5 separate regions of the Homo sapiens genome follow, and all the other regions are linked to region 3. Evidence: fine-mapped expression QTL. A gene starts in region 3. Each other region holds a variant in brackets. All regions are shown on one strand. Distances are from middle to middle.

Region 1 (5,059 bases), 110 kb after region 3:
CAGTGCGTCCCAAACCCTAGGATGGAGGCAAGCACACAGGGAGCTCTTCCTAGGAAAAAATGGGGACATCTCAGGACATCTGATTATTTCCTTTAAAGAGATTATTATGAAATTACTGTACAAAAAGAAAGAAAGCAGAGGACATCTGGTTTCTCCTTTCATTTCCTCCCCACTCCAGGTGTTAGCCCCAGGGCTCAGGTCTGGGGAAGGTTGAGCCTCCTTGCCCCAGCAAAGCCACTTCTGGTAAGGGGCAGGGACTCCTGGTTGAGACCTGGCTCAGCATCCTGCCCCAGGCAGGCTCTCGGAGACCCTGGGACCTGGGACCGTTGTTTGCAGGGCAGGAGATATGAGCAGGTGATGTTCCTGTTATTACACAGCGTGCTGGGTGAGTCACCGGGAATTTCCTAGGCATTTAAGGCGGAAGGATTGGGGTAAATGGAGGGGAAGGAGGAGGCAGGTGGAGAGAGGAAAAAGGTAGTGAGCTGGCTTCTGCCTGGTGAGTAAGTTGTTCCCTGCTTTAAAGTGAGATGATTAGGGCGGAGCCATGACTGAGGAAAATAATGTACCAGGGAGAGCCCTGAGGGAGCAGTTGAGCTGGAGTTAAAGGAGGTGATGGCTTCCAGAGTGCCAGTGGCAGGAGTGAGAGGCAGGGATGGGGCAGCTTGGAGTGAGAGGGATAGGGCAGCTTGGAGGTGGCTGATGCCGGATGCAGTGCTTCAGACTGAAAGGTGGTCGTTTGCTGTGAATTGCCCTCTAGATTGTGTAGACTAGGATGATGGGATGTTTCTTGAGCTTGGACCCAAGGCAGCATCTCCTGTTGACATAGTTCTCCCTCCCTACTGACGCTTCCTCAGGCACCTTGCCTGAGAGTTGAGAATTCTTAGGTTATTTCTTCCAAAGGGAGGACCCTCCCCCCAGGGTGCCACTTTGCACTGGCCTAGTTGCACCTCTGCTGGGAAGGTGTGAATCGGGGGCAAGTTGCCCCGTGAGTCAGGGTTAGGATTCTGGGTGAGACTCCACGCTGACAGGCCCGGCTTCCCCTCTGCTTCATGAGCCCCTGTGCCCATGTGTGAGCACAGGTGTGGTGGCAGGGCGGCCCGAAGACCACCAGCCCTGAGTGTGGACGGCGGCCCAGGGCAGAGGCCCAACCCAGTTCCAGGCATCTTCATGCTGCTGCCCAAGGCTCTTTTACAATGCAGCCTCTGGCTCCGGTCTTCCCCACACTTGTGAAATCACAGGCAGGGTCTTCCCCACACTTGTGAAATCACAGGCAGGCAACATAATGACAGGAAGTCAGCTGTCGGCTCTGTCTTCATACTCCTGAGGGCCCGGTTTTTAGACTTTGCCACTGTTCCTGGTTGCAGTATGCTGGTCATAAGCTAAAAGGGCATGGGGGTCTCTGTGCAGCTTGGTTTGGTATTTTAGTCCGCAGATACATAGGTTGGAATTAGTACCCTGGGTGCTGGGACACAGCTGGCGTGGGCTCACAGAGACCTCATCCTCTAGCATAGGAGACTCAGGTACACAGTTTCTGGGACACAAGGTTAATTCTGCACTGAGGCAGTGAGGGAGTGTTTCACAGCCGTGTGAGCTGGGCCTTAAAGATCGAGTCCCTGCAGAGGAGGGGGATGGGCAGTCCAGGCAGAGGACCCAGGCAGGACTGAGAAGTGGTGGATGAGGAACATGGGAACTGGAGTGTGGAATCTCCTAGATTGAGGAAGAGCTGCCTTCCGCAGGTGAGGTGGGCCCAGCAGAAACCAGCCCATTTCTGTTTTGACCTTTCGTCTTGCAGCAGCAGTGCTCCTGGCCTTTGCCCGTTCCTTGCTTTCGATTTATAGGAGAAAGTTAATTTCCCCCCTTGCCTCCCCACCTCTTCCTTTACGGGATTTGAATCTCTTGCACATGTTTTTAATAGGCATCCCTTAATCCAAGTGTTGCCTTCTGGGTTTTATTCTGTTTTCTTTTTCTTAAACATAATGGAACGTCTGTGCCAGCTTGGAACAGGACTGAAAACTGAGGCCAGCCAATGCGTTAGGCTGGCAGGGGGCCAGCCATGGATTAAGTGCCCTATGGCACTTGAGAAGTCTGGCCGACACCACACTGGTGGGGGAGGGGGATCCACAAAGGCTGGAGCTGGAGGTTCCTGCGTCTCCAACACCTCTGCACTGGGAGGAGAGATTAGCACAGACTCAGAAATCTGGCCAGGAGCAGGGCTGTTTGAAGGGAAGGCCGTGGGCACGTGCCATCGTCTACCACCCCAGCTGTGCAAAATGCTCAGCCTAGAGGTGAAACTGCTCTTCAATGGGGTGTGTCACCTTACCCCCCGTAGTCATTCTCCTAGAGGAGCCTTCTATAGAACTGCTTCTGCATTTGTTGGTAAATCCTTGAAACCAGATCTTAATTTGCTTGCTTGCTTGATCAGTTGATTGATTGGTCAGGGGAGGGGTTGCCACCTCCCCCTGAGAGATTTCTTTTAAGATTTAATGCCAGGACAAACTTTGTTTTCCCTGAGGAACTAGTAAGCATTGCCCATCCACCAACCAGAGCCATAGACCATGTCATGTTCCCTTTTTGTCTTGTCTACTAGGAAGCTCAGAGCCAAACTGGATGCTTTTGCAGTAACTATAACCTCATGGTTATCCCATTTATAGCCGCCTTCTTTCCAGAGTCCTTTTTGTTTCTCTGGTACTAACCAGGGTAAGGATAAGTACTTTGGGAAAGAAATGAGGGCATATTTAGTGTTTTGGGTTTTTTTTTTTTTGGTGTGTGGCAGAGTCTTGCTCTATCCCCCAGGCTGGAGTGCAGTGGCGTGATCTTGGCTCACTGCAACCTCTGCCTCCTGGGTTCAAGTGATTCTCCTGCCTCAGCCTCCAGAGTAGCTGGGATTACAGGCACCCGTCACCACACCCAGCTAATTTTTGTATTTTTAGTAGAGACGGGGTTTCGCCAGGTTGGCCAGGCTGGTCTCGAAATCCTGACCTCAAGTGATCTGCCTGCCTTGGCCTCCCAAAGTGCTTGGGATTACAGGTATGAACCACTGCATATGGTCTGTTTTTTTGTTTTTTTTTTTGTTAAGGAAAAATGTGCCATTGAAGGCAGAACCCACAGGTGGTGACCATAC[T/C]TTCTGGTCTGCCACTCCTCTTGCACAAGTTCTGGGAGGAAGCAGCTGAGGCATGGTGGGCGGGAGGGACCTAGAAAGGAGGGAAATCACGGCTGGCTTTTAGTTGTTTGCAGAGAATAGAAAGCGCATGGCTGGGGTGCTGCTCTGGCTCAGTCCCGCTTCTGAACACAGGGCAGCTTGTCCAAACAGCACTCTCTGAAATGGCAGCCTGCAGACTTTGCCACTGGCCTGATTTCACTGCTCCCTCAAACAAGCATCTTCTTAATGATGTGTCAGGTTCCTAGTGTCCGGGGTTTTCCACAACACTGTCCGGTGTGTGTCTGTGAGTTGCAGGGCTGTTTGGATAAGGGCTCAGATCTGCTTGGGAGGGCCTCTCGGCCTATGACCCCAGGCCTGTCTTTGATTCTGAGGGTCCTTGAAGCCCACCCTTCCCCAGAGCATGGTTCTAGCACCATGCGACACAATGGGTGGCCTGCCAGCTTTTTCTTTTTTTGAATGGTGGGCTGGGTTGCCGTTCCTGGGAGCCTAGCTCTTTCTCTTCTGCCTGGACTAAACCCAGAGAATGCTGGGCAGGGCTTTATGATTTTGGGGTGAGGACCCTGTTCTGTTCTACACATTGCTGAGTAAGTCAGGGCCAGTCAAAGCTATATGTTCAAGCTGACCCGTGCCAGAGAATGATCTAGGTGGTCAGCTTTATTGTAGCTTTATTGTCTTCTAGTGTACCACAGTGATTGTACGGACTACAAAACTGAGGTTACAGAAGGAGGTCATGTCCCCAAGGTCACACAGCAGGATCAGCAGAGCCTGCGCTTGGGCAGTGGTGGCCAGCAGCACTGATACATTGCTTGACCACTCTGAATGCTTGGGTTGCACTTGGATTTTTTTTTTTTAAGTTTCCAAATCAACATAGCTCACATTTTAGTGACCACATTGTTTAGAATATAGCTTATCTCATTGGAATGTTGAAGCATCAAGCAAAGCCAGAGCCAGACGTGGCTGACGTGGCTCAGCCTCACCTCAGGGGCCAGGGCACAAGCCGCAGCTGCTCCTGGCCCTGTCATTCCTCCCTTCCCCATTAAGTACTTTTGATGCCTTCATCCTTATCTTCCTTTGCTCCACCCCAGGAAGAGAGAAAACGACAAGAATGCTTTGCCTCTCCATCTTGATGGTGATCAAGATAGGACCAGGCTATTTTCAAGTTCACAGAATCGGGCTATTATCATTGTTGTTAACACCATGTGCTGAGTGTTTGATGCGCGCCCTGCACCTCACATGAGTTATCTCTGTCTGTCCAGAAACAGCGCCGAGAGTAAAGAGGATGAGGCCCACAGAGTGTAGCTGGTTTGCTCGCAGTTGCATGTCTAGTCTGTGCCTGAGCCAAGATTGACCTCCAGTCTGTCTGGAGGATGGCTTTATAGCTTGTGCCCCATGATCCAGTTAAATATCTAGGGCAATGGTTTTCAACTGGAGGCCGTTTTGCCCCCTAGAAGACATCTGGCAATATCCGCAGCCTTTTTTTATTGCCACAACTTGAGAGGGTGTTATGGATGTATACTACTAGCACCTAGTGGGTAGGGGCCAGGATGCTGCTAAACATCCTGCAATCTGCAGATCCTCCCTCCCACCCATCCACCCACCCAACAAAGAATTATCTGGCCCCAGATGTCAGTAGTGCTGAAGTTGAAAAACCTGACCTAGGGTGTCCTAATCCTCCAGCTGACACTTCCTGGGTGTGTGTGGAGTGCAGGGGTGTTACTGGCCTGCCCCTTCGCCATTCGTGATAGTGTTCTCCTTGCTCTTAGAAAGGATCATGCACCTAGACTCCAAAAGGGGATTGGGACACTCTGTCCTGCAGGGGCAACCAGACCCCTTCCAGTGGGCAGAACAGCTTCTGACTTTTCTCTCTTGGGCTTTACACACCTTCAGAAGGTCTGATGA
Region 2 (5,173 bases), 33 kb after region 3:
TCAATATCGGCTCTCTGTAACCTCTGCCTGCGGGTTCAAGTGATTCTCCTGCTTCAGCCTCCCGAGTAGCTGGGATTACAGGCACCTGCCACCACACCCAGCTAATTTTTGTATTTCTTTTAGTAGACGTGGGGTTTCACCATGTTGGCGAGGCTGGTCTCGAACTCCTGACCTCAGGTGATCCAGCCTTGGGCTCCCAAAGTGCTGGGATTACAGGTGTAAACCACTGCATCCGGCCCATCTTGAAATTCTTAATAATTTTCTCTTTGACCTAGTGTTTTGGAGCATGAGCATGGATAGAGGAGATGTGGGCAGCATGTGCCCATTGAGCCTTCTGCCCCATTCACATGTAGCATTTGAGCACAGACTTCTGCCGGACCTACAATGTGGGGGAGTTGAGTGAGAGTCAAAGTGAGTGTGAGATGTCACATCTGCGACTGAGTAGCAGGGGCCCTGACAGTCCTGATGCTTTCCATCTAACTGGAACTTGTCTTGGTTGTAGAAAGAAGGCGATGACATTCTAAGAAACATCAACGACCAAAGAACCCCATCATATCCTTTATTACTCACGTCACTTCCCTGACACCAACCACTTATATTGAAAATGATGACGGAAGAAGGGAAAGGAAAGATAGGGCACCCATATTGCCTTTTCCTTTCAGATCTTCCTTACTCCTCAGGCAGCATAAAGAGTGAGGTAGAATGGACACATAGCGAGAAGTGAAGTAAAAACGATTGAGTTAGCTTTATGGATGTTTCTCTGGTTCTGGTACATCACAAAATGCACATCCAAGTCCTAAAATACAATTCATGTAATGTTGGTGATTCCACATACTAGTTAAAGGCTTTTTATATTTGCAGTTAAAACTGGCATCACACAATATAAATAGGAGTGGTAAAATTCATGCTAATTCATGTAATTTAAAATTTTAATGTTGCTTTACTTAGAATAATATTAAATAGCAAATTAAAAATACCATGACACATCAAGAGAGAGACTGTGGAGGAAAGAGAAAAAGCTTTCTATTTTAGTACCATGATTGATACTTTTTTTTTTTTTGCCTTTTGCACAAAGGGTTCCATATTTTCATTTTGCACTGGGCCCCACAAATTATGCAGCCAACCCTGACTGGCATCCTGGGGCTGGAGGTCTCAGGCTGGTCTTGCACGTGCAGCCTCTAGATCCCTGGTCTGCTCACATTGTCTCCTGGGTTGCGGAGCTAAGAAGCATCATATAGGCAAGTGAGCATGTGTGCTTGCTCTGAAGATTCCAAGCTTCCAGGTGGTGGTGGCTCTGTTGATAGAGATAAAAAGTTGAGGAATTTCAGAGGCTACAAACATACTCTTGTTGAAGGTGCTTTGGGGGTCTCCTGAGCATTTACTTTTGTGAATTTTTGGGCAGCCTAGTATAGAGGTGATCCAGCAGTAAGCTGAGAGAGAGGCCCTAGTTTGACTCTTAACTCAGGCATGGTCTCCTTGGGTGAGTCATTTCTTCATCAGGCAGTCCTCAGTCTTTTGGTTGCAGTGTAGTTGTTAAAAATGTGGGTACTTGGAGGCTGAATTCTTGGGTCAAATCTTATCTCCATCTCTCTGTCCTTTTTTTGTGGTTTTTTTTGTTTGTTTGTTTTTTGTTTTTGTAGGGGACAGGTTCTTCCTCCACCACTCAGGCTGGAAGGCAGTGGTATGATATTGGCACACTGCAGCCTTGACCTCCCAGCTCAAGCGATCTTCCCACCTCAGCCTCCTGAGTAGCTTGGGACTACAGGCACACATCTCTATGCTGGGCTAATTTTCATGTTTTTTTTGTTGTTGTTTTTTGTTGTTGTTTTTTGTAGAAACAGAGTTTCACTATGTTGCCCCAGGCTAGTCTCAAACTTGTGAGCTCAGGCTATCTGCCTGCCTCAGCCTCCCAAAGTGCCGGGATTACAGGTGTGAGCCACTGCGCCCGGCCTTATCTCCATCTCTTAACTAGTTGTTTGATGTTGGGCAGGTTGTTCAAGCCTCCTGGAGCCTTGGTTTACCCATCTATAAAATGGGTATAATGGTAATTATCTTATAGCATGGTCATGAGCGTGAAATGAGAGCAGGGGGAGGAGTAATCATTGTGTCTGGTCCATGGGACTGAATCAATGCTAGCAATGGTCATGATGGTGAAGAATGAGGGGAGGAGGAAGAAACAATTCCTGTGGGTGCTAGGACCAAAAGTAGTATCCTCTAGGAATCCTGGCCTTCAAGGTCTAACTTCCAAGATTCTGTGAGTACGATTCTAGGGAGCCTCTGCCTCAGACTTCTAAGTAGTTCTTCAGGCTGTGCTCTAGAAGTTACTGGAATGAAAGAAAAATTGTAGTGTTTGAAGGTCTTCAAGGATCCTGGTCCTCTCACACTGTCACTCTTAGTCACATGACCTTTGACTGTCCATTCCCTACTAAGCCTTGGTTTACGCATCTGTCAAATGGAGCATTCGTGGGTGTGCCTGCCTTAGAGGATGAGACCCAGCTGAGATGACATATGGAGAAATCGTTTATAAACTTAAGTACTGGTGTTAGGAAGAGCTAACACGGTGAGTCTTCAGTGTTTCTTTAAGTGCTGCTCACTACTGTCCTGAGAGACTCCAAGAAGCAGTTACTTTGTTTGGGCCTCAGTTCATCATCTGTGAGATGAGAGGATTGGGCTTTGTGCCTAAACTGCCCCCCCACCCCACCACCCAAGACAGATTAAAAAAGAAGGAAGGAGGGAGGGAGGGAGGGAGGGAGGGAGAGAGCGAGCGAGCAAGCAAGCAAGCAAGCCAGCAGGATTTGGAATCGTCCCCTAATTGGAACCACAATCGCAGGTTTCAGGGACTCAGGAAAGGGTGCAGCCCAGCTTGTGGTTGAGAAATGAATGTCAGATGTTAGGAAGAAAAAGGCCTATCTCAACATAGCAGGGGTTTCTTACTGCCCCTGCCTCCTCAGCCCCGGTAGCCTGTCACTCCCTGGCGAACAGCTTGGCAGCACAGAGGCAAACCACAGAGTACATTTGAGGCCCAGATCTGCTTATTT[C/T]GAGGGTGGGGCCGCGTTTTTCTCCTGCCACAGTGAGCTAATTAAAGAAAACAAGCTTCGGGAGTTGGGAGAGAACTGTCCACAGGACACTTGGGGAGGCTTGCTTTGGTTGTGGAGGCCTCCACAGCCCCCGGAAGGCAGGTGGAAGTGGGCATGGAGGGTCCTACGCATCCCCAGCGGGGGTCTGAGGGCCCACTGTTGCTCAGCTGGGGGATTTGGGGACGGTGGGAGGGCATACATGGATGGGAGGGTGGACTCCGTTCCTGAGGGGGCCAGTGTGGAGGAGGGTCAGGCAGCCCATGGAGATGGGACAGTGTTCTGAAATGCTTCACAAATGTGGACTTTTGCCCCAAACTGTGGACAGAGCGTATGTCCTGAGCGAGGATCAACTCTGTGAGTACCCATGATAATTCTCCTTTCTGTGGTTGCCGCCCTGTTGATTCATGTGTCAGCCTTAGAGAAAGTGGCTGTGACTTCTGCATTCCTGGGAATACACTGACATGAGAAGAAGTAGCCGCTCTTGTTCACAGTCACAGGGCTGGAAAGTGGGATAAGGACTAAGGACTTCTGTCTCTGGATTCAGCATGCTGATTATGGGGAAAAGCAGACATCAATTCCTCATGTCTTGTAAGCATCACTGTCCTCCAAAGTTGGAGCCCAGCTCAGACAGCTGCATAGTATTTTATAGAGAAGGTGTGTTGTTGAAATGTTGATTATGCAAATTGAATTGTGTTTTAAGACTACTGGGAAAACCATTTAAAGGAATCCTGTTGTAAGTCATTTTGAAAAATGGAGAATTACACCACCTCCCCAAGGATTTTCTGTTTTGGTAAATTTCATGTGGCAAGATTACTTGAAGAAGGGTTCCAGTGTTTTGCTAGCTTATAATGGTTACTGCATAAGGAAGGTTTACTCGCCAGAGGTCCGCATACATTGGAGAACTGGGGGAATATGTAATACTTGTGCAGAAATGTTTTGATTCATGTACTCAGAAGATGGGATCTGGATGACACCTCCAGCCTATTGATTCCCAAGTAAGGTGTGATGACACCACCACCAGCGAGGTGTGCTATGAGGAATTTTTGTTGATGATGAAAAGTGAATGCTAACTGATTGCACACCACGTGCCCCATACCTTACATAGATTATCTTATTTAATTGTTGCTAATAATAGTACTACAGTCTGTGAATGATTTACTTAGCAATTAATTCAAAAGCATATTCCACTCTACAATGGAATATTTTTTGAGCCAAGAAATGAAGTACGTGGCCGGGCGCAGTGGCTTGCGCCTGTAATCCCAGCACTTTGGGAGACCAAGGTGGGTGGGTCATTTGAGGTCAGGAGTTCAAGACCATCCTGACCAACATGGTGAAACCCCATCTCTACTAAAAATACAAAATTAGCCGGGCATGGTGCCACATGCCTGTAATCCCAGCTACTTGGGAGGCTGAGGCAGGAGAATTGCTTGAACCCAGGAGGCAGAGGTTGCAGTGAGCCGAGATCGCACCCTTGCACTCCAGCCTGGGCAACAAGAGCGAAACTCCATCTAAAAAAAAAAAAAAAAAAAAGGAATGAAGTATGTGCCACAACATGGGTGAATCTTGAAAACATTGTGCTGAGTTGAAGAATTCAGACATCAAAAGCCACATATCACATGATTCCATTCCCATGCAGTATCCCCATAGGCAAATTCACAGAGACAGAAAGCAGATTAGTAGTTGCCAGGGATGGAGGAGAGGGGAATGGGGAGTGACTGCTTCATGGATACAGGGTTTCCTTGAGGGATGTTCTGGAACAAAATAGTTGCGGTGGTTGTACAATATTGTGAATGAACTCAATGCCACCAAATTATACACATTAAAATGGCTAACATGGTAGATTTTTGCTGCATGTATTAATATATTAATGTATTAATAAATGTATTAATTACAATATTAATATATTGTGATATACTGTGATATATTGTGATAAATATATCAATATATTGTGATAAACATATAAATTGATTTTAATATATATTAAAATCAAATGTATTCCTCTAATGGTGTCCATGTCACTGACTTAGTTTCTGATAGGTTTGTATTGGGTAGGAAAGAAAGGAATGGGACATTTACGTGTACACTGAGGCAGAAGA
Region 3 (5,000 bases):
GCTGTCTCCACTTCCATCCCACCTCTCCTGAACTTTGCACTTACCATGGTGAAAAATTAACTGGGCTAATGTTTCCCTCCCAAGGACAACCTCTGCAAAAGCAGGTATGGCTGGGCCCCAAAAGACCAGGTGCCAGAACAGAGTTGTACCCATCCAGAGCAGCCCACCCATTCACTGCCCAAAGTCAAGATCAAGAGAACATGCAGGGTCTTCTCAGCACTGGAAGAATCAGTTCCTCAGCCCTCCTCAGAGCTTTCTGAAACTGGACTTAGTCCCCCAGTGGAGGGACTTCTCTTGGAGAAACAGGCCTGAGGAGAAAGAACTAGCCCAGAAATGGCACTTATTAGACTTGTAGGTGGGTCCAGCACTATTTTTCTGCATGCACAGCTGTTCTTGTCACACGGATGCCAGCAGGGAAGCATGGTTCTGCCACACTAACTAGCTGGCTGCCTAGTTATTTCCTCCCCTCAGGAAAATGAGAGGGCTGAATGAGGGCCCCTTCCCATACCATGATTTTACAGGGTGAAGTACCTGTCAGGTCCTTCTACTACATGTAATCCTCAAATCTCTCTGACGCTCTTCCTCTACAGTGCAAATCACTCTCCTTCAGCAGACATTGCTCTCTCTGTAACATAAAGGACTTGAACTACAGGAGGACAGTTACAATGCTCTTTCTGGATCCACCACTCTGCACAGTGAGAACCGCTTGCTCCATTCTTACAGCGGAGAGAACGGACGCTGCCCAAGGGGAAGAAGAGAAAGAGCCGGGATTGGAAGCCAGGCCAGTCACTGATGGATCCTGAGCCCCTCTTACTTTCTTTGGCTACCTCTCAATGGTTGGACTTGTTCAGGTTAAGATTAACACTTTACTGGACGATGATGACTGCAAGGCCCCTGCCCATCTTTGCCCACTCAGTCACATCATCCTCATCCCCACCCTTTGATGCTTCTCTAGGCTGTGAACGCCTTGAAAACCTTAGTCTTTTATTTTGGAAGTTCAGGAACTGAATAGGAGGGCTGCAACTCAGAGCTGCTCCGTCAATGTGTGTTAAACTTATTTGACCTCCCTCCACCACTTTTCATGGCATTAGCAATGCAAACCTTTTCACATGAGCTTCCCACAGCCACCCTAGGAGATCGCGAGGGAAGCTACCTCTAGCCCCATTTTACAGGTGAGCAAATAATCCTTGCAGTGTTACAACAGTGTGCCCGTGTAGAGAACTGTTTTGCAAAGAGCTCGATCAATGATGTCATCTTTGCCTTCCGTGACCCAGGCAGCTGGGTGCAGTCTCAAGATCGGAGACTGAGGCTTCAACAAAGTATTGGGTTCAAATTCCAGCTCTGCCACTTGGAACCCTGAGTAAGTAATGTAATCTCTCTGTGCCTCCGTAAACGTGAGGCACAGGAACATCTACCTCACCAACCACTGTTAAGACTGAATCAAAGGGCAGCAGGCGGACTACCCGGAATGAAGAAAGCAATCAATAAATGTGGATTGTGTCATCCTTGTCTCTCTTGACGGACGGGAAGAGGAGAGTGAAACCTAAGACCACAGCGGCAGCGCGTTAACAGGAGGACCAGCAAGGAACGGAAGCCAGGTTGTCAAGCCTCAGTTGGCTTTCACGTATTCTCCTTTTCAGGCGGGTATTTAGGAAGAGAGGAGGGTGAGGAGCACAGCGCACTTCTGCAGCAGCAGCTGCGGATTGGCTTGTGGGAGGCGGTTCTCCGGAGCAAGGCAAGGGCCCCTGCCGCTTCTGGGCTGACTGTGGATTCCGCCACACCTCACAGGGCTTTGTAACTCCCCACCCACTTGAGGGTTCCAGATAACTTTTTTTTTTTAACAAAGCAGGGGTGGGGGTGGGAGATTCCTGCTGTTAAAAACAAACAAAGGGCTTAGACACCGGCTAGTCGGCTGCGGGAGGCAGCAAGAGAAAGGCCGAGGGGCCTGGAGTAGCTCCTGAAAACCGCCGAGGGCCCTGCGGGCAGACGCCCCTGAATTCTTTTGGTGGGGAGAAAAGCCGCGGAGCTCCCCAATGTGCCAATTGGTTTGTTGTTGTTTTGCTTTTTTTGAATACACAAACTCTCCGAAAACTCCTGTCTTGCCCCACTTTTTTGTGAGTTCATTGCTTTGGAAACAAAACTCTCTTCCATTTATTGGCAATTATCAAATTTCCGATCCTTCTCTATCAGGAGATCCAGCAACAAACACCCTGTTATGTAAATTTCTTTCAAAGATAAATTCGAAAGCCCCTCCATTCATTCCTTCAAGAACTCAACAGATGTCCTTGAGGCTCATTTTCTGCCGGGCACTCGGTTCACAAGGCTCAAGAGACCCCTGGCTCCAGCCATTGTCCAGGTTGTCACTGGTGTCCCCAGCTCTCCACTTCTGAGGACCCACTTCTCACCCCCTCCTCCTCCGCACACGTTCCCGAGGCTCTCGGCCGGTGTGATCTCACCGACTAGAGAATAAAAACAGCCCAGGGGCGCCGGCGCCGGCCAAGGGCCTTGACGGGGATCAGCAAGCGCGAGGCCAAGTGCGGGCCCCAACTTCCTGGGCCCGGGCCTTCCGCGCGCCCCCTCTCGGGCTCGGGTCCTCTCCAGGGTGCACTCGCGTCCGGACGACGCTTACTTGCTGCGAGTCCAACCCTCTCCGGCCCGCAACTCCAACCGAGCCGCCCGAGTGTGGACTCCGAGAGCGGACGCCACGGGCCGCGCTCAGCCCTCCCGCCCGAGGCCCCTCTCGCCGTGTTTCCCAGGACTTCCTCCCCGCGCCCGCCCGACTTCAGGTCGGGGCCGCGCAGGGTCCCGCGCGCTCCAGCCAGGACTGCCGCCGCCCGGGTCGCCCACGTGGGCGTGCTGGGCGCGGGGTGGTGGCCGGCCGGGCGCCCTCCCCGGAGCAGGGGGCGGGCAGGGCGCCCGCGGGAGGAGGTGGCGGGGCGCGGGGGAGGAGGCGGGGAGCCCCGGCGGCGAGGGGGCGGTGACAGCACTTGGAAAGGAGGCTGCACGCGGATTTGCATGAAACACAGACTGGGAGCGGGCGGGAGCGGGAGCGCGGCGCACGCCCCGGGCCGGCCCAGCCAGCGAGCGAGCGAGCGGCGAGCCGGGAGGAGGAGGGTGGCGGGGCGGTGAGGCCGCAGAGGCGGAGGGATCTGCGCATCAAAGCTAGCGAGGCGAGCGAAGTTTGGCCGGGGGTTGGACTTTCCTTCCCGGAGGCGGCACCCAAACAGCTACCCCGTGCGGAAACCCAAACTTCTGCTGCCACTTGGAGTCTCGCGGCCGCCGCCTCCGCCCCGCGTTCGGGGCCTTCCCGACCCTGCACTGCTGCCGTCCGCCCGCCCGGCCGCTCTTCTCTTCGCCGTGGGAGCCGCTCCGGGCGCAGGGCCGCGCGCCGAGCCCCGCAGGCTGCAGCGCCGCGGCCCGGCCCGGCGCCCCGGCAACTTCGCCGAGAGTTGAGGCGAAGTTTGGGCGACCGCGGCAGGCCCCGGCCGAGCTCCCCTCTGCGCCCCCGGCGTCCCGTCGAGCCCAGCCCCGCCGGGGGCGCTCCTCGCCGCCCGCGCGCCCTCCCCAGCCATGTCGTCCATCCTGCCTTTCACTCCCCCGATCGTGAAGCGCCTGCTGGGCTGGAAGAAGGGCGAGCAGAACGGGCAGGAGGAGAAATGGTGCGAGAAGGCGGTCAAGAGCCTGGTCAAGAAACTCAAGAAGACGGGGCAGCTGGACGAGCTGGAGAAGGCCATCACCACGCAGAACGTCAACACCAAGTGCATCACCATCCCCAGGTGGGGGCCCGCCCGGGGGGGACCCGGGGTCACGCCGGCCCAGCCCCCTGGCACTGCGGGGCCGACCCAGTGGGGCTGGAGATGGGAAGAGGGAGAGAGAGGGAGGGAGTGAGACTGTGTGGGTGCGTGTGTGTGAGAGTGGGAGAGCGCGGGCAGGAAGGGGGTGGGGGGACCCCAAACAAAACCATCTCTGATTTGCAAAGATCAGAGCCCGAGGCTTCCACGCGGCACTCTGGCTTCCACACCTCACATTCCCTTTCCACCTCCGGGAGGGGAGAGCGGGTTGCTGCGGGACTCGGCCGCCCCCACTCCGGGGAGCTGGGGCTGGAAGTTGAGGCCCGCTTTGTTCGGCTCCGCGGGCCGGAGCCCCTCCTCCGCCGCCGCCTCCCGCCCCCGCGGCCCGCGCTCGTGGAGGTGGTGGTGTCTTTGCGTTTCTTTTCTTCAGTCGGGTCTCCCCACTTTCCTCTACAGGAATGCGGTCCGTACAGCTGGGGCTGTGGGTGAGGAGCGGGAGCCTAGTGATTGACAGATTCCTTCTTCGTTCTTTCTTTGCCTTCGGGATTAGCATTTTTATCGAGTATTTTTAGACTCGGTTGTGCCAGTCTCCCGCCCCCTGAGCATGCACGCACTTTGGTTGCAGTGCAATGCTCTGACTTCCAAATGGGAGAGACAAGTGGCGGAAAATAGGGTCTTCTCCCACCTCCCACCCCCCCATCCCGACTCTTTTGCCCTTCTTTTGGTCCAAGAGATTTTGAAACCGTGCAGAACGAGGGAGAGGGGCAGGCTGCAGCCGGGCAGATAACAAAACACACCCCAAAGTGGGCCTCGCATCGGCCCTCGCATTCCTGTAGAGCCTTCCTTCCCAAAGCGCGCTGCCATCTGTCTGGATCTCCTTTATCCTTCCCGTTGCGCGCTAGCTAGGTCGGGCGGGAGCCCACAGATGGCTGATAGAAGGGGTCAGTGACTTCACTCCCCCAGGGCCTTCCTTAGCTTAGATGTGCCTGGCTGGGAACTGGGGGTGCGGGTACCTTGGCTTCCTGTCTCTACCTCTCAGCCTCCTTTGATGCTGAACCAAGGGAGAGAGCGTGTGTGTTGGGGGCTGGCTCTTTTGGGGGTCCCAGGCTGCCGAGGAATGAGTAGAAAGCACCAGGGACTGTCAGCCGCAAAGGGATTGTCATCCCTGCTCCTGGGCCAGGGTGGACTCCATCCTTGGCCACCTGCTTG
Region 4 (5,171 bases), 44 kb after region 3:
AGTGGAGTCCAGTCTCCTTAGCTGAGTTCACAGGGCCCCGTCTGCACGACTTGGCTTCTGTCGGCTTCCCTAGCCCTGACTTCCCAAGCCTTAGTCATCACCCTCTCTCCCACCCAGGGCTCAGCACAGTACCTGGAACAGTCAAGCCCTCAATAAATGTTTACTGAGTGCATTAAAAAAAAAAAAAAGATTTTAATGAGTCATGCTTTAACTGAAGATTTTAGTGTAGTCAGTCATTGGGCCTTGGATGCCAAAGGAATGACAAATGGTGGGAATTTCAGGCACAGTGACTGTGATAGCCCCAAGGAAACCAAGAGAGAAGTAGCTTTATCTGGGTGGAGGGGAGTGGGCCTTTCAGAGCCTCGAAATCTTCCCACCTGCTGCGCCACTCCCACCACATAAGCACCCCACCCTTCTTCCCAGGGTGAGATTTCTCAGCTCTGCTTTCTGGGGTGCCAGACAAGGGGAGAGCCTTGTTGCCATGCCCTCCTGCCCTCCTGCCCTCCTGATGCAGTCTGTGGTCACCTGCAGGCAGAGACAGATGAAGTCCGTCATTCGGCTGCGAGTAATTTCTGATGGGAGAGGGGCTTCCCCCGGCCCTTCCCGCCTCTCTGAGCCTTGCCACGGTCACTTGGTTTGCCCAGCCTAAGTCACTGCCTGTCGCTGTGGTTATTGCATGGACAGGGCCTCCCTCTGTCCCTCCACTTCCCTTCCCTGCCCCATACTGTTGCCCTCACCCACCCCAAAGCCTCACCCTTCCCTTCCATAGGGATATGGCCTGATAGAGGAGGAGCCATTTGATTTTGACTATTGTTGAAATTGAGTGGGGAATTTTGGGTTTGTTTTAGGTTTTGGAAGGGAGGATTATCTGAGGCTTGAGGCTTCTGTGATACTGACATCTGGTGTGGAAAGTCATCCTCCCTCACCTAGGTGACTGGGCCTCCAGGTCATCTCCCCGAGCAGCCTCCCTGGATCTGCTCTCCTCTCCCCCCCACCCCCCCACCACCTCCCGCGCTGTGCCCAGGGTGATCTTTCTAAAGGACAGATCTTGCTTCAGCACCTCCCTGGTTAGAACCCTTCCGTCCAGTGGTTCCTAGTGCTTCGGGGATAACTCGCCTTGTCCCTTGGGGTCTGCACAGCGTCCTCCATCTCCTCTCACTTGGCCTTGCCCTCGGGGGCTCCGGTAAGAAGCTTTCCAACCTGGCAGCTGCAGACTCTGTGCGGTTGTATTATTGCTGTAAATGGGCAGGGATTACGCATTTGTGGAGTGACTGATTTCAAGTACAACTGCCACCATGGGAGAGGTCTGTGAAAATCACTGGAATTGAAAATGACCATGCTTTGCCCAAAAAGGTTGAGAATCCCCACTCTGATGATACTAGAAGCCTGCTTGCCTCCCCACCCTGTGCCAAGCCATTTCTTGCCTCCTTGCTTTGCCCATACCAGCCTGGAATGTCCCAAGCCTATTCAACTTACTTCCTCCAAAACGTAGTCCCATCTTGATCTCCAGGAAGCAGCCTTCAGATGCCCCCTCCTCCTGGCCACTGCAAATGTGTCCCCCCAGCTGCTGAGCATGCCTAGGTCTGACACACACCACGATATGTTGAAATCATTGGTTTCTGGGTTATTCTTCTCACAGTCCCAGGCAGTGAGCCCTCAAGGACAGGGGCTCCATGGGACTGGTCTCTGGGTCGGAGGCCAGGACCCAGGTCACTAAGGGCATGTCACTCATCTGGACCACAGCTCCCTGCCTTGTGGTGTGGACTCTGTTCTCTGCACTGGGCTCGTTCTAAAACGGAGCATTTGGTCCTTGCAGCCTGCCTTGTGGTTTATGACTTAGTAGATTGAAAATGACAGTTGTGCTCTATTTTCATTTGGAAAGAAAAAAAAAAGTGGAAAACCAGAGATTGCACTGATCTGGAGGTAGAGAGAAAACTGTGGAGATCAAAGAAGATATTATGTATTATGAATGTTACACAGATCAAGGCATGTTTGAAATAGGCTTAATTTTCCTCAAGTTGGCTTTTGTCTCACAATTGAGTTCTTGTTGACGAAGACCAGTTATTATTCGTCTTCGTGTCTCTGGAGTCTAGCACCTAGCACGGTGCCTGATAAAGCATGGTCACTTCACAAATACTTGTCGAAGAATGCATGGGATGAATATGCATTTGGGTATTTTTAATGCTTGATGATTAGAACATTCTCATGGCTTGTTAACTTGTAAGACATAATTTTCATTGTAAGTTCTTTGTGTGTGCAAATGCTTTTTGTGTGGAATGCTTGCCATGCACTGAAAAATGCTTTGTGATAGCAGTTTTGAAAAATTGAGTCATTTTGCCCTGATTGAAGCTGGGTGACCTTGTGCAAGTCACTTTAACCCTCTGGGACTTGTGGCCCTCATCTGTAAAATGGGTAGAAGGTCAGAGTGGACCTCGTGGCCTGAGAGGCTAGTACCCCATGCTGCATGTAAGTCTTACATCCTCCTCTTTGGTGATTGGATACTGACCCTCTCCCCAGGGGTTCCTGCACAGAGCTGGAATTCTCTCTGGTGTCTTTGCATTCTAGTGGGTGGAATGCCTTGTTTCTCAGTAGCAATGAGAAATGTTAATGTGAGGTTATGAAAGCAAGCCAAGAGCCATGGAATAATTAAAACACACAC[G/A]CACACAAAGAAGGAAAAGCGAGAGGGGGAAACACACTTAATGGACAAGGGATGAGTAAAACCCAATGGACTGAGAAAACCCCAGAGCTGAACTTCACATGACCCCGCGTGCTGCCTGCAGTTGCGACACCCGCGTGCCCCTTACGCTCCGCCGGCCTCTCAGTGATGTCAGTGGGCCATGGGCCCCACAGGAAGCAGGGGCTGCCATCAGCCTGGTGGAGCGTGCCAGCCCGCTCCTCCTCCACGGCCCACTTCCCACCCACCCGGGTCTCCAGATAACATGAAGCCATAGCTCCCAGGCTCGTCAGCGGGGGAAACCAACTCAGTGCTTCTCAGAAAATAGAACCCCAGCCCATTAGTGATGTCCACGCAGGCAAGAGATGACCAAGAAGAATGTTTGCCTTTTAGGAGTTCTCTGCCTGAAACCAGCAGGTTTCCTTTAGGGATAGGGTGACTGTGCTTGCTGAACACCTCTAGGTCGTCAGTGAATGAAATAATTCATTCTGTGCTTGAGTGTCTAAGACCCAGGGGGTTTAGGAATAATTAGGATACTGGCTGTACCCTTGGAGTTCTGTGCTGCTTGGGGGATACGACTCAAACTCACAGACATCTGTGGCTCAAATCAAGGCATATAGATGCAGTGACTCTTGGAACATTCGAGGGAGAATCACCACCTCTGCTGGTGGAGGAAAGGCCAGGAACTGCCCACCTAGTTTTCCCATGACCCCAGCCTGTAGCGGGATATGTCAGAAGATTTGGATTTAGAGGAACTTGGGTTTGACAAAATAGAAGTGTATGTATATAAACAGAGTTGGGAGTGATGGGGGATAGGATGCTGACAGCACCTTGGTAGTCCCTCCCCCTACGTGACAGTATTGACTTCATAGTGTTGTTGTGAGGCTTGAAGAAGATACAAGAGGGAAGAGGAGCGTTCCTTGCCGTGCAGATGCAAATGCTCATTGTTACTTGTTCTGCCTCTCTGTGTCTGTGACATCCAGCCCTGTGTGGGCTACCCTGGTTGCAAAGTGGGCCTCCTGCCGTTGAGCAGCTATGGTCCAGTGGGCAGGTACACCACAGTCATGGAAGCCTAGTTAAATCATTACATAATAGTTAGCTCTGTATGACCAATCTTTTCTTTAAAGAAATTCTTCCTTTTGGAATAATCGTAGATACACAGAAAAACTGTACACAGATAATACAGAAAGTTCCAGTGTACCCCTGACCCAGATGTCCGTAATGTTAACATCTTGTATTACCATGGTACACATGTCAAAACTCAGAAACAACATTGGTACATTACTAGTAACACAAGTCCAGACTTTATTCAGTAAACCTTTTGAAAAATAATAGCTTTATTGGCATATAATTCATACACCATAAATCTGCTCTTTTAAGGGATATGATTTAGTGGTTTTTAGTGTATTAATGGAGTTGTACAACCATCATCACTATCTAATTTTAGAACATTTTCAACACCACAAAAAGAAACCTCATACCCATTAACAGTCACTTCCTGCCCATCCCCCTTAGCCCTGGCAACTTAGTCTACTTTCTGGTTCTCTGGATTTGCCTCTTTTGGACATTTCATGTAGATGAAATCATACAATTTGTGGACTTTTGTGTTTGACTTCTTTCACTTAACATATTTTCAGGGTTCATCCATTTGTAGCATGTGTCAGTACTTCATTCCTTTTTATGGCCAAATAGTATTCCAGTGTATGGATATACCACATTTTGTTTGTCCTTTCTTCAGTTGATAGACATTTGGGTTGTTTTCACTTCTTGGCTATTGTAAATAATGCTGCTACGAATATTTGTGTACAAGCTTTTTTTGTGGAAATGTGTTTTCATTTATCTTGAGTAGATACCTAGAAGTAGAATTATGGGGTCATTTGGTAGCTTTGTTTACCTTTTTGAGAAACTGCCAAATTGTTTTCCAAAGTGGTTGTGTGGTTGTACCATTTTACAGTCTCACCACCAATGTATGAGGGTTCCAGTTCTCCCCATCCTTGTCAACACTTGTTATTGTCTGTTTTATTTTAGCCATTCTAGTGGATGTGAGGTGGTATCTCATTATAGTTTTGATTTGCATTTCCCTATTGGCTAATGATATTGATCATCTCTCCTTGTGCTTTTTGGCATTTGTGTTTTTTGTTTGTTTGTTTTTGAGATTGAGTCTTGCTGGGATGTCCAGGCTGGAGTGCAATGGTGCCATCTCGGCTCACTGCAGCCTCTGCTTCCTGGGTTCAAGTGATTCTCCTGCCTCAGCCTCCTGAGTCACTGGGATTACGGGTGTGTGCCACCACACCTGGCTAATTTTTGTATTTTTAGTAGAGACAGGGTTTCACCATGATGGCCAGGTTGGTCTTGAACTCCTGACCTCAGATGATCCACCTGCCTCAGCCTCCCAAAGTGTTGGGATTACGGGCATAGCCACCGCACCTGGCCTTCCATTTGTATATCTTGTTTGGAGGAACATCTACAAATCCTTTAGCCATTTCTTTTTTTTTCT
Region 5 (5,000 bases), 57 kb after region 3:
TGAAGGTGAGTGACGAGACCCTGCAGCAAGAGGAAAGGAGCAGCAGTGCTAGATGTTGCAGAGAACCCAGAATGGTAAGGCCTGAAAACCATGTGTTTTAGATTCTGTAACCTGGAGGCCACTAGGTGACCTTAGCAAGGGCAGTCATGATGGAGTGTTGGGGCTGAAGCCCATTGCAGGGAGGCCCATAGTCAATGGGAGGTGGGCAGTAGACACAGAGAGCTGGGTTATTCTTGCCACACAGCTGTGCTGGGGCCATGGCGGGGGTGGGGGTGCCACAGAGTGGGAGCCAGAGAGGGACCTGGGTAAGGGCTGACCGTGGGTGGGGAGCGCATGGAGTGCTTTCAGAGGCCAAGTGAGTGGAACTGTCTATGAAGCAGATGGATGGAACCCTGGCTGAATTATCTCAGACTTGCCAAAGACATTCATAAAATTCAGACCCGCACACACTCGGGAATGGGAAAAATGAATTATTTTGTAAGAAGCTTATAGTCCAAAGGTAGAATTGCCCAAGAGAGCTTCTGAAAGGAAAAAGTCATAGCAAGTTGATATTTTTAAAGTGAAATAACATAGGTTGGATTTTTCTAGTAACTTCAAGGGGTAAAGACTTTGAATTTTTTTTTTGGAGACAGAGTCTCGCTTTGTCACCCAAGCTGGAGTGCAGTGGTGCGATCACAGCTCACTGCAGCCTTGACCTCCCAGGCTCAAGCAATCCTCCTGCCTCAGCCCCTCAGGTAGCTGGGATTATAGGCACACGCTACCACGCCTGGCTATTTTTTGTATATTTTGTGGAGGTGGGGTTTCACCGTGTTGCCCAGGCTGGTCTCAAACTCCTGAGCTCAAGCGATCTGCCCACCTTGGCCTCCCAAAGTGCTGGGATTAAAGGCGTGAGCCACTGTCCCTGGCCAAGACTCTGGGTTTAGTAAGCCTCTTGCAACTCACTAGGAGTGGATTTCTAGGACCTCCCCACTTTCTTGCTTGTTGTTTCTTTTGCTAGCCGTAAGTCCCTGGAGTACACTGGGTACTTTATGGGAAAAAGAGGAACAGTGTGGGACAGACTTTGCCCTGGGCTGCTTAACGTGATGTGGGGAACAGAGGTGATAAGAGCCTGTGGCAGCTCAGGCAGCCCTGCCATGACCTGGAGTTGGGGAGGGGTATCAAGGATAACAAGTCTTATACACATGCCATGCTGTTTCTTTGGATCAATAGATGGATAATTTTTAAAACCCCCTGTATGTATCAAACTCACTTTGGAGATGTAAGGCATGGCCTCTGTCCTGGTGACAGTATCTGAGTGGGAGGCCTGGTAAAATGTCTGTGTTTAGGATGATGAACGCCATAATCTAAGACTGCTAAGTGCTGTGGGGTGGTCTAGAAGGGCAGATGGGCTAGCTGCGAGGAGGGCAGAGGCACTGTGCAATGGTGTTGCCTGGGAACACTCCGTGGAGAGTGTGGGAATCTCACCCTGGCCCTACCAGGTAAGAAATTGGGCCTGGGAAATTGGGAAGGGAATTTTTCAAGCTTCATGGCTGCTCCAGGACTTGAACTAAGACTTTCCTTTAGAGCAAGCTTGTCCACCCTCTGGCCCGTGGGCCGCATGTAGCCCAGGAGAGCTTTGAATGCAGCCCAACACAAATTCATAAACTTTCTGAAAACATTGTAAGATTTTTTTTTTGCGATTATTTTTTAGCTCATCAGCTATCGTTAGTTAGCGTATTTTATGTGTGGCCCAAGATGACGACTCTTCCATCGTGGCCCAGGGAAGCCAAAACACCGGACACCCCTGCTTAGAGAAAGTGCGTTTTCTGTTATAAAAGGACCTTGAATCCCCATCTCATATGTTGGGACTTTGTCTTGCATGTTTTCAGGCAGGGCATGATTGTATCTGTAACATAATAATATGTAAGAATGTGTACTTCTTAGCCTTTGCAGAGAGGCGGGAGGCCTGTTTCCTGCAGCCCCCGCCCTGTCCTGGCTGAGGGGTGGGAGGCAGCTTGCTGGCCAGCCCCGCTGAGTCACCCTCCGGCGTGGAGCCCAGTGGGGATTTCCACGCGGCCCCAGTGTTCTCTTCTCCTCGTTTCCTGTTGGGCTGTGAC[G/A]CAGGCTGGCTGCCAGCGGGTGCCGGTGGGCACTCCTGACACAGGCCACTGCCAGCCGGCCTTGTGGGTCCTGAGGGCATCGTGGGTGGCTCTCCCCCCACGAGTGACTGTGCCTGGCAGGGTGTGCCCCACATGTCAGTTGCACTCCGTTCTGGGTGGGCAGCTCCCAGAGGCCCCGGGGAGGGCTGCAGATGGGCGGGGGGTGGCTGCCTGGGAGGACGGGAGGTTTTGTTGAAGAGAGAGCTTGCTCTTGGGGCAGTTTGTACTGGGCGTTTAGGGTTATAAAAACCTAGATTTGCTGAAAACGGCTCTCTTTTATCTTCTGACAAGAACATTTGTGAAGAAAACAAAACAGACCTTCAGCCATTTAGTCTATACACCGAGAGAATGGTTTCTACAGTATGCCTGATTTCTCTGGGTCTTTCTAACACATCCATGTATGTGCTTGTCAGCTTCTAGTGCCTCCATTTCTTGATATGAGGAAATTTTGCTTAAAAAAAAATCTCTACTGATAGGACCTCTGCATATTCATGCATGTTTTTCCTCCAGAACTTTGTGTCCCACCACTGTGCTAGGCAGTTTACAAATGCCATCTGATTTCATTCCTGCCACTACAGTCTAAGGCTATATTGTCCGATACCTATCCACCACCCTCATGTGGCTATTTAAATGTTGGGTCATTAAAATTAAATACAATTACAAATGCTGTCCCTCAGTCACACCAGCCGCATTTCAAGTGCACGGGTAGGCTAGTGGCCATCAGATCAGCTCATATAGAGCAGCACGTTTTCATCACCACCAAAAATTCTATTGGGTAGCACTGGTCTAAGGTCCGGACATATGTCCCCATTTTGTAGATGAGGAAGCTGAGTCCTACAGAGGTTAAGTTGACCACTTAGAAGAATGAACAGATGAAACCTTTTCATTTTACACATGAGGAAACTGAAGGTTATACTCCCCTTTCCTTCTTAGAAAAGAGAAATTGATCTGTAGGCTTCAGGGACTCTTCAGTTAGCCTGGGGGTACTGTGCGGGTCAGCTCTTTTGCTGTTCCCCCCAGACCCTGTCAGCTGTGGGTGGTGGCTGGTTTCTCTTGGTTTCCTCACCAGAGTTTGGGAATGAGCAAGTCAGGACTGCTTTCCGTACGGTAATCCTTTGGCCCATTTCCTATCGGGGGATTTATGGAGCTGGTGATCTCTTGGGTTTTTTGGCCATTTGTTAGAGCCAAAAGAGGTCACAGGAAATGATATACTAGTTTCATTGCCCAAAATACTGAGGTCCAGAGAGGTGAGGGGATGCTGAGGGTCTTGCATCTAGCTAAGAGCTGAGCTGGCTCTTAAACTTGTTTTCAAGCCAGGACTTACCTGACTTTCTTAGGAAAGTAATCACTCCATAGACAAGGATAGGTTTTTTTCACAGAGCAATGATGTTCCCTGTGGTCCCTATGTAGGGTGGTAAGGAATAGGGCTTTGGGATCCTACAGACCAGGGTTCAAATCCTGGCCCCACCACTTGTAAGTTATGGGACTTCAGACAAGGACTTAAACATTCTAAGTCCTCAGTTTCTTCATCTGTAAAACAGGGATAAAATATCTCAGTGAATTTGTTTTAAATACTTGCGTCCGGGCATGGTGGCTCATGCCTGTAATCCCAGTACTTTGGGAGGCTGAGGTGGGAGGATCGCTTGAGGCCAGAAGTTTGAGACCAGACTGGCCAGCATAACAAGAACATAACAAGATCTCATCTCTACAAAAAATTAAAAATATTAGCTGGGCATGGTGGTGTGAGCCTGTGGTCTCAGCTACTCGGGAGGCTGCAGTGTAAGGTTGCTTGAGCCAGGAGTTAAAGTCTGCAGTGAACTCGCCACTGTACTCTAGCCTGGGCAACAGAGTGAGACCCTGTCTCAAAAAAAAAAAAAAAAAAAAAAATCAGCCAGGCGCAGTGGCTCACACCTGTAATCCCAGCACTTTGGGAGGCCGAGGCGGGTGGATCACCTGAGGTCAGGAGTTTGAGACCAGCCTAGCTAAAACATGGTGAAATTCCGTTTCTACTGAAAATACAAAAAATTAGTCAGGTGTGGTGGCACACGCCCGTAATCCCAGCTACTCGGGAGGCTAAGGCAGGAGAATCGCTTGAACCCAGGAGGAGGAGTTTGCAGTGAGCCAAGATTGTGCCATCGCACTCCAGCTTGGGCAACAAGAGCAAAACTCCGTCTCAAAAAAAAGGAAAAAAGAATTCTAACATGTTTGAGATTGACTGCAATTCCTAGCATATTACAAGTGTTAGTAAATAGTAGCCATTAATATTATGAGCTTATCATCACCTTCAGCCAGCATTCTAATTTTACAGTATAGAATCCAGTACATAGGAGGCACTCAGATAGACGGGATGCCCCAAAATTGGGAGACGGACAAACTTATTTTGAAATAGTCTTTTTTTGACATTTCCAAAGAATATACTCAATGTTTTTCTGCAACCCTTTGCCTTCTTTTTAGGTGAAGGACCTCTACATTTAAAGCAGTGGGTTCAACTGCTAACCTGAAAAGCTATAATAAAACATCCCAGAGTATCCAAAAAGCCTGGAAACAAAGGGAAAATAGTGTGTCCTGCTTTCCAACTTTCGGATATGCTGTAGAATAGACTGAAACAAATCACTGGAAAATAGGTTGTTGTCGATTTTATTTAGAAGCTTTTGTTCCTTTGGATTTTCGTCTCTTATTTTTAGACAGAGTCTCCCTCTGTCACCCAGGCTGGAGTGCCGTGGTGCAATGATAGCTTACTGCAGCCTCAAACTCCTGGGCTCAAATGATCCTCTAGCCTTGACCTCCTGATTAGCTGGGACTACAGAAGCAGGCCACCACGTCTGGCTAATTTTTGTATTTTTCTGTTGAGAAGAGGTCTTGCTA

Direction of the effects. Alleles are on the strand shown, and positions count from the first base shown. SD is a standard deviation of normalised expression in the study named. Not every link is listed here.
For the expression in fibroblasts of the gene that starts at base 3,018 in region 3, G is the high allele of the variant in region 4 and A is the other (small effect, 0.31 SD a copy in GTEx).

The links.
Region 1: its variant is fine-mapped to the expression of SMAD3 in neutrophils (BLUEPRINT, PIP 0.95).
Region 2: its variant is fine-mapped to the expression of SMAD3 in whole blood (TOPMed, PIP 0.97).
Region 4: its variant is fine-mapped to the expression of SMAD3 in fibroblasts (GTEx, PIP above 0.99).
Region 5: its variant is fine-mapped to the expression of SMAD3 in whole blood (TOPMed, PIP above 0.99).

What each region holds. Positions count from the first base shown.
Region 1 is chr15:67,174,675-67,179,733 of GRCh38, forward strand. All of the region lies in intron 5 of SMAD3 (SMAD family member 3), which reads left to right. Among named protein-coding and RNA genes, the nearest start is that of SMAD3-AS1, 30 kb to the left of the region's middle. RefSeq lists an enhancer at 1,379-1,428. The variant T/C (reference allele first, on the strand shown) is at 3,122.
Region 2 is chr15:67,095,594-67,100,766 of GRCh38, forward strand. The region is part of intron 1 of SMAD3 (SMAD family member 3); the gene reads left to right. Among named protein-coding and RNA genes, the nearest start is that of SMAD3, 33 kb to the left of the region's middle. RefSeq lists enhancers at 1,377-1,426, 2,640-3,141. The variant C/T (reference allele first, on the strand shown) is at 3,039.
Region 3 is chr15:67,062,585-67,067,584 of GRCh38, forward strand. SMAD3 (SMAD family member 3) reads left to right here and starts at 3,018. Exons shown (of 9, transcript NM_005902.4): 1 at 3,018-3,776. The coding sequence starts at 3,571. It overlaps SMAD3-DT (SMAD3 divergent transcript), which reads right to left and starts at 1,598. Exons shown (of 6, transcript NR_135686.1): 1 at 532-1,598. RefSeq lists enhancers at 1-108, 1,266-2,036, 3,576-4,344, a cis regulatory region at 29-42 and silencers at 2,795-3,284, 3,455-3,614, 3,765-3,814, 4,065-4,124, 4,145-4,234.
Region 4 is chr15:67,106,980-67,112,150 of GRCh38, forward strand. All of the region lies in intron 1 of SMAD3 (SMAD family member 3), which reads left to right. Among named protein-coding and RNA genes, the nearest start is that of SMAD3-AS1, 37 kb to the right of the region's middle. RefSeq lists an enhancer at 1-1,009 and a silencer at 1-206. The variant G/A (reference allele first, on the strand shown) is at 2,660.
Region 5 is chr15:67,119,190-67,124,189 of GRCh38, forward strand. The region is part of intron 1 of SMAD3 (SMAD family member 3); the gene reads left to right. Among named protein-coding and RNA genes, the nearest start is that of SMAD3-AS1, 25 kb to the right of the region's middle. RefSeq lists enhancers at 910-1,767, 1,746-2,185. The variant G/A (reference allele first, on the strand shown) is at 2,097.